Linked DNA regions of Homo sapiens. The main gene of each other region encodes a partner of the protein of the gene in region 2 in a complex. Each region holds a gene or a part of one and is shown on either strand. Other genes may lie near its edges. A codon is read from its position in the direction of its gene.

What was found.
Region 1: the proteins of RGS10 (region 2) and GNAI3 are in contact, whole or in part, in a crystal structure (PDB 2IHB), measured with the Homo sapiens proteins. Residues at the interface, in NP_001005339.1 of Homo sapiens: Glu62, Phe63, Ser64, Glu66, Asn67, Ala102, Ser103, Ser104, Gln105, Val106, Asn107, Val108, Glu109, Gly110, Leu137 (codon at 998), Lys139 (codon at 992), Tyr140 (codon at 989), Asp141 (codon at 986), Ser142 (codon at 983), Arg145 (codon at 974); in NP_006487.1 of Homo sapiens: Val71, Val72, Ser75, Glu115, Val179, Lys180, Thr181, Thr182, Gly183, Ile184, Val185, Gln204, Ser206, Glu207, Lys209, Lys210, His213, Ala235, Glu236.

Annotation. Positions count from the first base shown.
Region 1 is NC_000001.11:109,586,533-109,593,636, forward strand, and holds part of GNAI3 (guanine nucleotide-binding protein G(i) subunit alpha-3), read left to right. Parts: intron 1-196; coding exon 197-350; intron 351-5,510; coding exon 5,511-5,701; 3' UTR 5,702-5,723; intron 5,724-5,812; 3' UTR 5,813-7,104. UniProt on the Homo sapiens protein: Heterotrimeric guanine nucleotide-binding proteins (G proteins) function as transducers downstream of G protein-coupled receptors (GPCRs) in numerous signaling cascades.
Region 2 is NC_000010.11:119,499,253-119,504,759, forward strand, and holds the end of RGS10 (regulator of G-protein signaling 10), read right to left. Parts: intron 1,008-5,507; coding exon 861-1,007; 3' UTR 565-860; downstream 1-564. UniProt on the Homo sapiens protein: Regulates G protein-coupled receptor signaling cascades, including signaling downstream of the muscarinic acetylcholine receptor CHRM2.

The DNA.
Region 1 (7,104 bases), on a different chromosome or scaffold from region 2:
GCCAGCCCTTCCTCCTACCTCCTCTCCCCCAAAAATTACAAAAATGAGGACTGACACTCAACTTTATCTTATTGGTGTTTGACTTATTTCCGTGAATGCCATTTAGTGCTGCAAAACTTGTTGGTTTGTCTTTTTCATTAACTTAATCCACTTTTACTATTTGCTACTGACCTATCATCCTTTATTTCTTTTTCAGAACCGAATGCATGAAAGCATGAAACTGTTTGACAGCATTTGTAATAACAAATGGTTTACAGAAACTTCAATCATTCTCTTCCTTAACAAGAAAGACCTTTTTGAGGAAAAAATAAAGAGGAGTCCGTTAACTATCTGTTATCCAGAATACACAGGTAAGGGGTTATGAAAGATTTTATTGGAGGTACACATCTTACTTAGATCAACACTTTGGTGGCATTCATAAAACTGCCTTTTTTTTTTTAATGATTGATTGGGAGAGTATTCAGTGGTAGTGGCATTGGCATTAAGCCTGTGATTAAAAGCCCCTAAGTCAAGAGTGCCATATCAGACACAATTGAGTTTTCTGTGTTTATTTTAAATTTCTATCTTCATTTTTTGAGGAAAATACAAAAGGAGAAAAAGTAAATTTGGGAGCTGGGCATGGTGGCTATAATTCTAGCTACTTGGAAGCTTGAGGCAGGAGGATCATTTGAGCCCAAGAGTTTGAGATCAGTCTAGGCAACATAGTGACACCCCCCTGCCTCACAAAAAATAAAGTAAAATTTGGTATATGTTGAAGAAAATACAAGGGTAAATTTTAATCATTGTGCCCAAGAGACTGACATGTAGTTGCAGAGAGACATAAATAATTTTATTATAGTGTTTAATTGCACATAAATAATTTTATTATAGTGTAAAATATGCATTAATAGAAGTGGAATAGAAGTGGTTACTTCTGATGGGGTCACTGTAGTCTTTTTCTAGAGCTACTAAGAGGATGAAATAGAAATCATCAGGCAGACGGGAATAAAAGCATTTTAGAAAAGAGGAATTGCATATATGAGAATATGGAGGTAGGAAAATGGTATGACCAGTTGTGGAACCCAGAAGGAATTTGGTATTACTAGAGTTTACAGTGGCAGGGAAGAAGTGGTTGGAGAGATGGTCAGAGATCAACTCATGGAGGGCCTTATATCTCATGCTGAGACGATGATCAGTTAAAGGTTTAATATCCTACCATGATCCATATCATGGGGTGCATGATATAGAAGAAACTGTGCTTGAGAAAGATTATGCAATAAATAATAAAGATAGATAGTAGGGGATTTGAATTAGTAAGAACTCAGGATGGAAATAAAAACTTTTGATGGGGATTAAGGGATATATCATAGAACCCAAGGGCAAGAATGGACAGGTCTTAGAATGGAATTAGAACTAGGAAATAATTGTCAGGAACCCTGGAAGCACTCTTTATCCCCATCTTTTTTCTCTCCTCTCTGTGTATCTTTTTTATTATTCTTTCTTTCCTAACCAGCTTTCTCTGCTATTCAGTTTATGTGATAACAGCCTAGTCACAGTTTCTGTATCTCTGGTAAAAAGATCAGACTAGGCTGGGCGCGGTGGCTCACGCCTGTAATCCCAGCACTTTGGGAGGCCGAGGCGGGTGAATCATGAGGTTAGGAGATCGAGACCATCCTGGCTAACACAGTGAAACCCCGTCTCCACTAAAAATACAAAAAAAATTAGTTGGGCTTGGTGGCAGGCACCTGTAGTCCCAGCTACTCGGGAGGCTGAGGCAGGAGAATGGCATGAACCCGGGAGGCAGAGCTTGCAGTGAGCCGAGATCGCGCCACTGCACTCCAGCCTGGGCGACTGAGCAAAAAAAAAAAAAAGATCAGACTAGACTGGGATTGCTTGGCCTTGGTTTCAAATTCCAAGGAGAGAGATTCTGGCCGTGGTTAAGTCAGGCAGAAATCTGTAGGCCAATCAGTTGAGGTCAGGGGCACAAATGTAACTGCCAGGGATGGATCACTATGAAACTTATAGATCAGAATCAGGTATTTCCAGAGAAGGGGAACTCTTATTAGCAGAGACACTGTAAATGCTTTCTATAATAAAGTGAGGCTGGGTGCAGTGGCTCATGCCTGTAATCCCAGCACTTTGGGAGGCCGTGGCAGGTGGATCATGAGGTCAAGAGATCGAGACCATCCTGACCAATGTGGTGAAACCCTGTCTCTACTAAAAATAGAAAAATTAGCTGGGCATGGTGGTGTGCGCCTGTAATCCCAGCTACTCGGGAGGCTGAGGCAGGAGAATCGCTTGAACCCGGGAGGCGGAGGTTGCGGTGAGCCGAGATCGCACCACTGCACTCCAGCCTGGTGACAGAGTGAGACTCCATCAATCAATCAATCAATCAATCAATCAATAAAGTGAAGGGGTAAAGCAGGGGTAAGGAAGTGGGAAGAGTCAGAGGTACTCCCAGGTTTCTGTCTTGGATGCTGGTGCTGTGACCTGAATTCATGTATAGGAATGTTGATTTTTAATTATTCATAGAACGTTGAAATAATATCTCATGGACAGTTATATTCGAGGTTGAGGAGAGGTTGGGGTTTGAGATCATCAGTAGTGAAAACATGGAAATGGGTGAAATGACCTATGGAGATAATATTATAGAATGAGGAGAAAAAGGACCACAGGTAGAACGAGAGAGAATAGCAGCCTCTATTGGCAGGAGAGGAAGAAAGATATCATAACCAAAAGGAGAGGTTAAAAAGTGAGTTGATTAAATATTTCAGTCAACAGTGTTATCTGCAGATAAGTAAGATACATACTGAAAAAGAGCCTTTGGAGTTAACAGTTAGGAGGTCGTTGACCTGCTGTTGAGAGCAGTGTCAGTGGAAAGTTGAGTACAGTGAGTTACAGAATGGAAAGTGAAGAAAGAAGACAAGTGTAGACTACTCTTGAGCAACGTGGGTTTAAAGGGAAGGGAGAGATTTAAGAATGTTTATAGGCTGAGGGCTAAGATCCTATAAGCAAAAGAGATACATTAAAAAACAGATGTAATTGAAGGAGCAAGATTTGCAAGCAGGTGGGAAAAAAGGAATTAAGAGTCTAGGTAGGATAAATGGATAAACAAATTGTGTTATATACATACAATGAATATTACTTACCCAAGAAAAGGAATAATAATAGATGGTACAACTTGTATGAAACTCAAAACACTGTGCTAAGTAAAAGAGGCCAATACTTCTATTATATGATATATCCAAAATAGGGCAATTTCTGTCCATAGAGACAGAAAGAATATTAGTGGTTATGAGAAGTGGGAGAATGGGAAGAAAAGGGAGTGATTACTTAATGGGAATAGGGTGTTGAAAAAGTTTTGTCACTAGAGAGAGGTGGTGATTGCATAACATTGTGAATACACTAAGTGCCACAGAATTGTACACTTTAAAATGGTTAAATATCTGTTATGTTAATTTTCCTCAATAATTTTTTTAAAAGAGTATAGGTAGAGCAATTGATTTTTGAGCAAGAAGTAAGACACCTCTAAGACCAGAAGTACAAATAAGTGCAGATATGTAACATTTTGAGTGAGGTGGTAGGCCAAAAAGTTGAGATGTAGTTTAATCCTCATGGCCTCTGTTTTATCAAGGAAGTTGGAAATGTGGTTACCTGTTCAGAGTAAAGAACAGAGGGAGGTGAGAATAAGGTGAGTTTATAGAAAGCAACCAAGTTTTAGGATTGGGGGAGAGAGATGTAAGACAAGTAAAATAATTGGCATTAATGTTGAAGGCCCAGCTTAGAGTCTTCACACAAAGCAAAGAGCCTTTAATATCATTTCCATTTTCTTTGTTGTTGTTAACTTCCAAGCCTATCCTCCATTGTCTTCATTCTGTGTACAGATTCTTACGGTCCTTATTTGCCAGGTATTATTATCTGTTCCTAGCAGACAAAATTCACTTTTCACTCATCTGCCTCCTTTAATTTACAGAGGTTGTTTTCCAGATTTTAAGAACCTGCTTCAAGCACCTACAAAGCTGTTTTCCTTCAGTTCTTTAAATATTTTAATTAATATTCTTTTCCTTTCCTTTTTTTTTTTTGAGACAGTGTCTTGCTCTGTCTCCCAGACAGAAATGCAGTGGCATGATCTCGGCTCACTGCAACCTCCACCTCCCAGATTCAAGTGCTTCTTGTGCCTCAGCTCTACTACAGGTGCCCACCACCAGGCCTAGCTAATGATTTTTTGATTTTTAGTAGAGATGTGGTTTCACTAAGTTAGCCAGGCTGGTGTTGAACTCCTGACCTCAAGCGATCCACCTGCTGCGGCCCCCAAAGTGCAGGGATTACAGATGTGAGCCACCGCACCCAGCTCCTTTTTTCTTAAGCTCCGTTTTGTTACCTGGTCTTCTTTATATCTTTGTTATTGATATTTTTGTTATGCTTCACGTTACTGAAAATAGCCTGTAGTTTATTGGAATAATGAATTGTCTTTGTTGCGTTTCCCTGGCTTTATAGCCAGTTTCTAAGGCTACTCTAAAGGTTCTATAAGTAGACAAGATGGTGTAAAAAGCAGGTGATTTAAGGGTATTAATTACAAATATTGTTGAGACAGGCTTTGCTTTTGGTTCCTGTCACCTTTCTTTTTGTAAAAAATAATAGCTTCATTGAGATATAATTGGGAAACCCTAAAATTCACTCTTTTAAAGTGTATTGCTTTTCCTTATTTAAATTATTACCTTAAGGCTTTGAAGCTAAACCTCTTTAAAACTGTGGAATGATTTTGAAAAGAACAATTTACCTTGTTGAATTCCTTTTTTTTTTGTTTTAATACAAACAATCCCATAGCGTTTATTGCCATCTTTTAGTAACATAAGGGTAATCAAAACACTATGAATGAATGTTCATATTGGAAAAAGGACATCTAAAAGCAAACTGTATCCTTCTCAACAATTTCTCACTTCATTGATCCTTTCTAGTTGGAGACACTTTGTAGCAGAGTAATATTATCTCCTTTTAGCATGATCCGACCCAGTTGTTTTAAAAAATATGGAACGCTTCACGAATTTGCGTGTCATCCTTGCGCGGGGACTGTGCTAATCTTCTCTGTATTGTTCCAATTTTAGTACATGTGCTACCAAAGCAAGCACTACCCTGTTGAATTTTTATTCCAAGATCACTCCAAGGAACACAGCCTCTCTCAGACCTTTTAAGCAGTTGTGTTCCCTAGAAATGCACCTTCCTACTTTCCTAGTTTCCTTTTATACTTTCTAGATTTTTTTAGCTGAAAAGTCTAAATGAAAAGGTAAAGAGAAATTTAACGTTATGTTTTCCTCAATCTTTGTGTTTGATGATTTTATTTTGTTACCATGAGAGTCCACTCTCACGAAGAACCTAATTATAGAAACACCTAATGATTATAGAAATAGAGAATTCTACTCATATTTAATTGGGTTATGTTCCCTCTCCATAAGTAAATGGTAATGGTCTGACTTAGTTGAGTTCAGGCAGCTGTTACAATTTGAACTGAGAGTACTGGGTGTCCGTTTTAGGTTCCAATACATATGAAGAGGCAGCTGCCTATATTCAATGCCAGTTTGAAGATCTGAACAGAAGAAAAGATACCAAGGAGATCTATACTCACTTCACCTGTGCCACAGACACGAAGAATGTGCAGTTTGTTTTTGATGCTGTTACAGATGTCATCATTAAAAACAACTTAAAGGAATGTGGACTTTATTGAGAAGCATGGATGTTAGTGAAAGGTAAAGTTTCATACAAGGTAGTTATAGTGCTACAGTGATGTCTCTTGGTTTTTAAACTTTTTCTAATTAAGAATATTCTTCTCTTCTAGTTACTACAGTGTGGAGTGTTGAGACCAGACACCTTTTGCTGTCTCATGGGGCAGCTACAAGCATGAACGGGACCAGGGAATGGCAGCAGCATGCAGAATCTTAGCACTCTTTAGCACAATATTTTGTATTAGGGAACTTTTAATTGACATGAGATGCTAAAGTCAGACATTGGAATTGGAAGAACTATAAAGTGTGATTCGATCGTCAAGACATCACTTGGATTTCTTAATCTTAAATGCTTATGGAAGATGTGAAGTTGAGGTGCTGCATTCTAGAACTTCAATATGTAGCTTACTCTTTTTTTCCCCCCTTCTTAAACCACCAGTGGTTCATTTTTAAGGTTTTTTCATCAAGAGAAGAATAACTTTACTAAATTTTATTTCTTTATTTGCAAAAGAATCTTTATTAAAACAAACAATCTTAACTATGCACATGATGTGACCAGATCATCTTGAAAATATTCCTCTTTAGTAGGAACTCTTTGTTTTTAACTCTTGGTATGGTCAGAATATAATACTTCCATAATTACTTATAATTCTTTCCGGTTACTGGGGCTATAAATACAACTTTTTAAATGAAATTTATGTTATTATCCTGCTCAAAGTACCATTATGGTTTCCATATGGTAATTACATTGGAAAGTTCTGCAATAAGATTCTAGTTCTCTCTTTTCTTTAAGCTTATGGTTGAAGGTTAACCTTGTTTGTGCAGATTACCAAATTACTGCTGATGTAGTATGATAAAGTCAGCTTCTTGGATACAGACACACCCAGGGCAGCTGCCAATCAGAAATGCAAATTGCTAAATTCCAAACAGAACCAGTGACTTTGCTGCTACATATTTACTAAATTGACCACTTTGATTCTTGCTTGTTTGTCTCAGTTATAGGGAGTTTTGTACATGGTGCCTCTTGTTTTCCATCTTCATGGCCTTTTCTGTTGAGAAACATCTAAAGTGTATTAACAGTGCATGCTTTTACTTTGTAAATGTGGTGCCAAATCCCTGTTTGCCATCGTTTTTACTGTACCGATGTTAACTGTAGTAATCCTTAGCCAGTATGTTCTTTTGCTGAAACTGTTGCATTTTGGGACTTTTTTCCACTTTGTCATGTGTACATTTTTAATCTGTTATAGTTGGCGGCAGTATTAAAATGGTGAGTAAAGAGCCCAGGTTTGCTCCTGTTTGTAACTAGTCTTTTCTGGAAATACTGTCTTCTGTTTCCTTTTGCCTTTGCAGAATGTGCTTTAGCCTTTGTCTGAGAATGGGTTTAGGTAGAAGGGTTTCCTGAAAG
Region 2 (5,507 bases):
GAAGTCTCAAGCCAGAGTTAGCAAGTTCAGCAAAGGGCAGGAGCAGAGAGGAAAGGATTATGATGTGTCCCCGATGGGTACAGGAGAAGGGAACAGCCCCACCAACTCCAACCTCAGTACGCACCTGTGCTACAATCCCATTCAACAACACCTTGAGTTGCCATGGGGACCCTGAACAATTTCCCACTTGTGTTTTTTTTCCTTCCTGGTTGAGATCTTGTTTCTGTCAAGATGAACTATTTATCTGTGTTGCATGAAATGTCATGGGTTGTGGTCAAAACCAGGACCAACCCACGCACAAGAAATAATAACCCTTTGATGACACTCACACACAAGCTTCCCAAGTCTTTAGAGGCTGTCAGTGATTCATTTTCTTTTTCCAGCACTGAACTTGCTCTCGAGAAATATTTAACCCAAAAGGCGACTGGCAGGCCATACCCCCAGTAGCCTGGGTTTGCCGGATCAACTCATGTTTGAGTTAATTTACCAAGTGACCTGTGGACATGCGTCCACTCACCAGAGAGGCAGAGCAAACACTTACAAGGTAAAAGGTAGTGTGATACGTTTCACCTTGTGGCCTTACATGAGGTTTAATTAAGCTACAAAATGCTCGACGTGTCCAGTGTTGAAGGAATCTCTGTTTTGTAAACTAAAACTTCCAAGTTATTATTATTCTTTTTTTATGTTAGCTTAGCCATCATGCAAAATTTACTGGTGAAGCAGTTAATAAAACACACATCCCATTGAAGGGTTTTGTACATTTCAGTCCTTACAAATAACAAAGCAATGATAAACCCGGCACGGTCCTGAGAGGAAATTCCTTTGCTTCTTAAAGCTGCCAGTCCCGGCTTTTTGGGGGCTCATGTGTTATAAATTCTGGAAGCTCTTTTAGCTGCAGTTTGAGCATCAGGCAAATCTTCTTCCTCTTCCTCGGTTCGCTTGTGTTTTAAAAACAAGTCAGACTTTAAGAAGCGGCTGTAGCTGTCGTACTTCATGAGATTAAAGATCTAAGGAGGAAAAGAAAAAAGAGTCTGAAGGCTGAGGCTAATCCAGGCCATAAATCATCCCATCAGATATGTATTAATACCTACCATGTGCCAAAGAATACTAACATGTGCAAAGAACACACTAAGAAAGCTCAAATAAGTCATCTGCTAGACAAGGCAGATTTCCTGGAGATTTTTGGTCATTATGCAATAATCTCAATGGAATATATAGACAGTCACATGAACAAATATGCCTTTATTTTCCACGGAAATATAGATTCACACAGCACTGATTCAGACCCTTGTACCAAGAAGTCCTTCAAGACTCTCCACTTTATTTGCCTAGATAAGACAAGGATGTATTTCTCCAAGAGCTTGAGACAGCCGAATAGAAACCATTTCTGTAGAGACAGTGGTGTTAAAAAGATCACTGACATATCATATGATGCCAGCATTGTTAAGACTCCCAGTAAGTCTGGCATCCGAGATCTCAAACAAACCTATTATTGTACCAGGAGTCAAAATGAGGCGTGCTCACTGCAGGGCAGGGCAGCAAAACTATAATCTTAGCAAGGGAACAGGTCCCAAATAAAGAATAGAGCAGCCAGCTGCAGAATGCCAACATCTGTGCCATCAGACAGGCTGGGGAGCACATCCCTAGAATGAAACAACTCTAAGGTATGTCAGGTGAGCGAAGAGGACACCCGACAGAGCTGAAGTGCCCCAGATTAGACGGCTGCCCCCGCCGGCATGGCAGGTGCTCAGAGGGCTGTCCCCAGGCACAGTAGCTTCCTCTGGCCGCCACTGAACCTCTTTTCTGGGCCACAGTCCTTGTGACCAGCATTCATTCTCCCCCACTGCTACCCAATCCTGTGCCATCTGCCCTCCTCCCTTGCCCCAGGAAAGGGGCAGAGAAAGAGAAGCACAAAGCCTTTTCCAGCTGTCAAGGGCTATGATCTCTTTCCCACCCCTCATTTCTCTCTCTCTCAGACCTTTCCACTTAACTCGCAGTACACTCTGCAACTAAAAATCCACATGGTTCACCCTGGTACACGGAACAACCAAGTGGAAAGTTCCAGAGATGTCTAGAATGTCACTGACTGCCAGGCGGGGTTGTCAAGTGGATGGTAAAACCCTGACATCTTTTAAGGCTGCCCTCTCCCAACACACATACACTATTTTGTAAATTAAACATCTGAGGGTGCTGGGGGCGGTGGCTCACACCTGTAATCCCAGCACTTTGGGAGGTGGAGGCAGGTGGATCACTTGAGGTCAGGAGTTCAAGACCAGCCTGGCCAATATGGTGAAACCCCGTCTCTACTAAAAATACAAAAATTAGCCGAGCGTGGTGGCACACACCTGTAGTCCCAGCTATTCAGGAGGCTGAGGCCAAAGAATCACTTGAACCCAGGAGGCAAAGGCTGCAGTGAGCTGAGATCACACCACTGCACTCCAGCCTGGGCAACAGAGTGAGACTCTGTCTCAAAAAAAAAGAAATAAAATAAAAATTAAAAATAAAACAAACATCTGAGGGACTCAAAGGACTCAGAACATCTGCTTGGAGGATGGGAGGTGCTTCAGGAGGGAACTGGAACCCTCAAATTTTACACCTTCATCTTCCCAAGATGGCTTCAACCACAGCAGAACTGCCTGAGTCACTGTGCTATAAACAGAGTCCACAACCCAGAGAAAGACCTGGGACTTTAGGTTTTCTTTAAACTGTTAAACTAGCGCCTGCCCATCCCCTGGTGCCCTTCTAGTCTTGCCCGAGTCCTCCAGCTGCTCAGCAAGACCCTGCCTCCTTAAGCCCCTGTCCTGTGCCACACTAGAGCAGTCATCTATCTTGTAGCCATCCTGTAATTCCAGGTGTGATTGTAATTTGCTGAGGTTTACAGAAAAAAAAAACAAACTTTTTTTTAATCCCAGAAAATACAAAAATCATAGCCAGGGCTGAGGTGGGGGATGAGAAACGCCATTACTCCTTCATGGCCTCCCACCGACGTGCTAAGCAAGCGTCACCATCTGCCTTATTCAGCCCTTCCAGGCACAAGAGTCCCCAAGGGGAAACTTTCAGAGGCTCACCTAGTTCAAAGTCTGCAATGAACGCTCAAATGTGACTAATGAAACCAGTTGCACGAAGGTCCCACCTGGCACCCAGCCTCAGTCCTGTACCCACTCCCACCCCAGGTCCACGCAGATGGGACCCACCACTCTAAGCAGGATGCGGTGCGACCCAAGCGTCTCGTGTGAAGTCTGCATGTGGGAGAGGAACATCCTGTTTGCCTGTAGTGGCTCTGAGGCTCAGACTTCAAAGTAGAGAAGAAAAAAGGCCGGTGCTGGGGGCACCCAGGGCAGAGGAGGAGGGGGAGGGAAGGAGGCTGCTTCGGCTGGGAGGAAGCTCAGGGGCTGCACCGGGCTGGCAGGACTCGACCCCGAGATCCCGAGATCCCAAGGCTGCCAGCAAGCCTGAGGGGAGGGGGCTGCGAACTATTTATTAAGAGCATAAGGGCCACTCCCTACTGGGGCAGGTGTGAAATGCCCCACGAGTGCAGAAGTCCCTCAGGCAGAGGTTTCCTCCTCTGAGAGCCCTTGCCCATCTCCCGTGCTGCTGCAGTGACTGGGAGGCAGCTGTGGCTGTTGGACCCAGACAGGCTGGAGAAAGGAGAGGATGTCGCCCCCAAAGCCCTCGTGCGCCTGGGCTGTGGGAAGCCTGATTGCTTTACATGGGGTGCACGGGCAGACTTCTGACTGCCACCGGCCAACGACCCCCTGGGCCTGGCTCAGGAGCACACAGCAACAGGGTGCTCCTGGGACGGGGCTCAGCAAAGGTGACTTAGAGGATGGAGAATGCAACTAAGGCCGGGTGCGGTGGCTCATGCCTGAAACTCCAGCACTTTGGGAGGCTGAGGCGGGCGGATAGCAAAATCCTGTCTCTACTAAAAATATAAAAATTAGCAGGGCTTGGTGGCACCCACCTGTAGTCCCAGCTACTAAGGAGGCTGAGGTGGGAGGATCACCTAAGCCCGCGGAGGTTGAGGCTGCAGTGAGCTAAGATCACGCCACTGCACTCCATCCTGGGTGATAGAGCCAGACCCTGTCTCAAAAAAAAAAAAAAAAGAGAATGCACCTAAAACTTTCTTCCAAGAAAGTGGCCAGAGATCGTGTGCCCAGCTACTGGCCAGAGCCTCATCTATCACAGGGAAAAGAGCTGTGACTGGGGCCCAGTAAGTGTTTACCAGTGGCTGAAGAGAAATCGTGCGCTGTGCAGCAGCAGAGGCTGGGGAAATGAACCCGGCTAGTACCAACGCGGCTGCAGTGCCCTCCAGCCCTGCGCTGGGCAGCGTGTGGGCATTCTTTCATTCAGTTCTCCCTCCAGCGCTCTGAAGACCCCCATTTGACAGAGGAAGAAACGAGGGGCTTAGGGGTTCCTCACAGTTCTGGAGGCTAGAAGTCCAAGTCAAGGTGCCATCAGGGTTGGTTTCTCCTGAGGCCGCTGTCCTCGGCTCGTAGACCACACCTTCTCCCTGCGTCTTCACAGGGTCTCCCCGGTGCACGTGTGTCCTTACCTCCTCTTCTCACAAGGACACTAGTCAGATTGGGTTAGAGCTCACCTCAATGTCCTTGTTTAATGTTAATTACCCCTTTAAAGCCCTATCTCCAAATAAAGTCACATTCTGGGGATTAGGACTTCAACATATGGATTAGGGAGGGGAGCACAGTTCAGCCCATAACAGTGAGCAAAAGAGAAGGGCGGAAGGCCAGCCCTGGCAGGCTCTGCAGCCCCCACTCCCAACCATGAGGCCATCTGCCACTCGCATGGCAGGACAATAAAAACGAGGGCTGCAAAGAGAGTAACATGGAAAACTGCCCGTGAATGTTAAATGACTGATACTAAATTTTAAAAACACACCCTATCTAAAAACAATGATCCCAAATACGTTCTTTTTTGTTGTTGTTGTTTGCTTTTTTGAGATGGAGTCCCACTCTGTCACCCAGGCTGGAGTGCAGTGGCACGATCTTGGCTCACTGCAAACTCCGCCTCCTGGGTTCAAGCGATTCTCCTGCTTCTGCCTCCTGAGTAGCTGTGATTACAGGTGTGCGCCACCACACCCAGCTAAGTAGAGACGGGGTTTCACCACATTGACCAGGCTGGTCTCAAACTCCTGACCTCAGGTGATCCACCCTCCTAGGCCTCCCAAAGTGCCGGGATTACAGGCATGAGCCACCACGCCCGGCTCCAAATACATTCTTTAAGAGTGTATCCATGTGTCTAAGTGAGAAACAATATGTCCCCAAAGGTCAGTAGTGGGGTGAATGGTGTTCCCCCAAACTTACATTCACCTCGAATCTCAGAATGGACCTCATTTGAAAAGAGGGTTGCATAAGGGTCTCAAAATAAAATCATACTGCATTTAGGGTAGGCCCTAAATCCAGGGACTGGGTGTCCTTATCAGAAGAGGAGGGGACACACTGAGGGAAGAAGGCGTGTGAAGGCAGAGGGAGACATCGGTGATGCAGCCA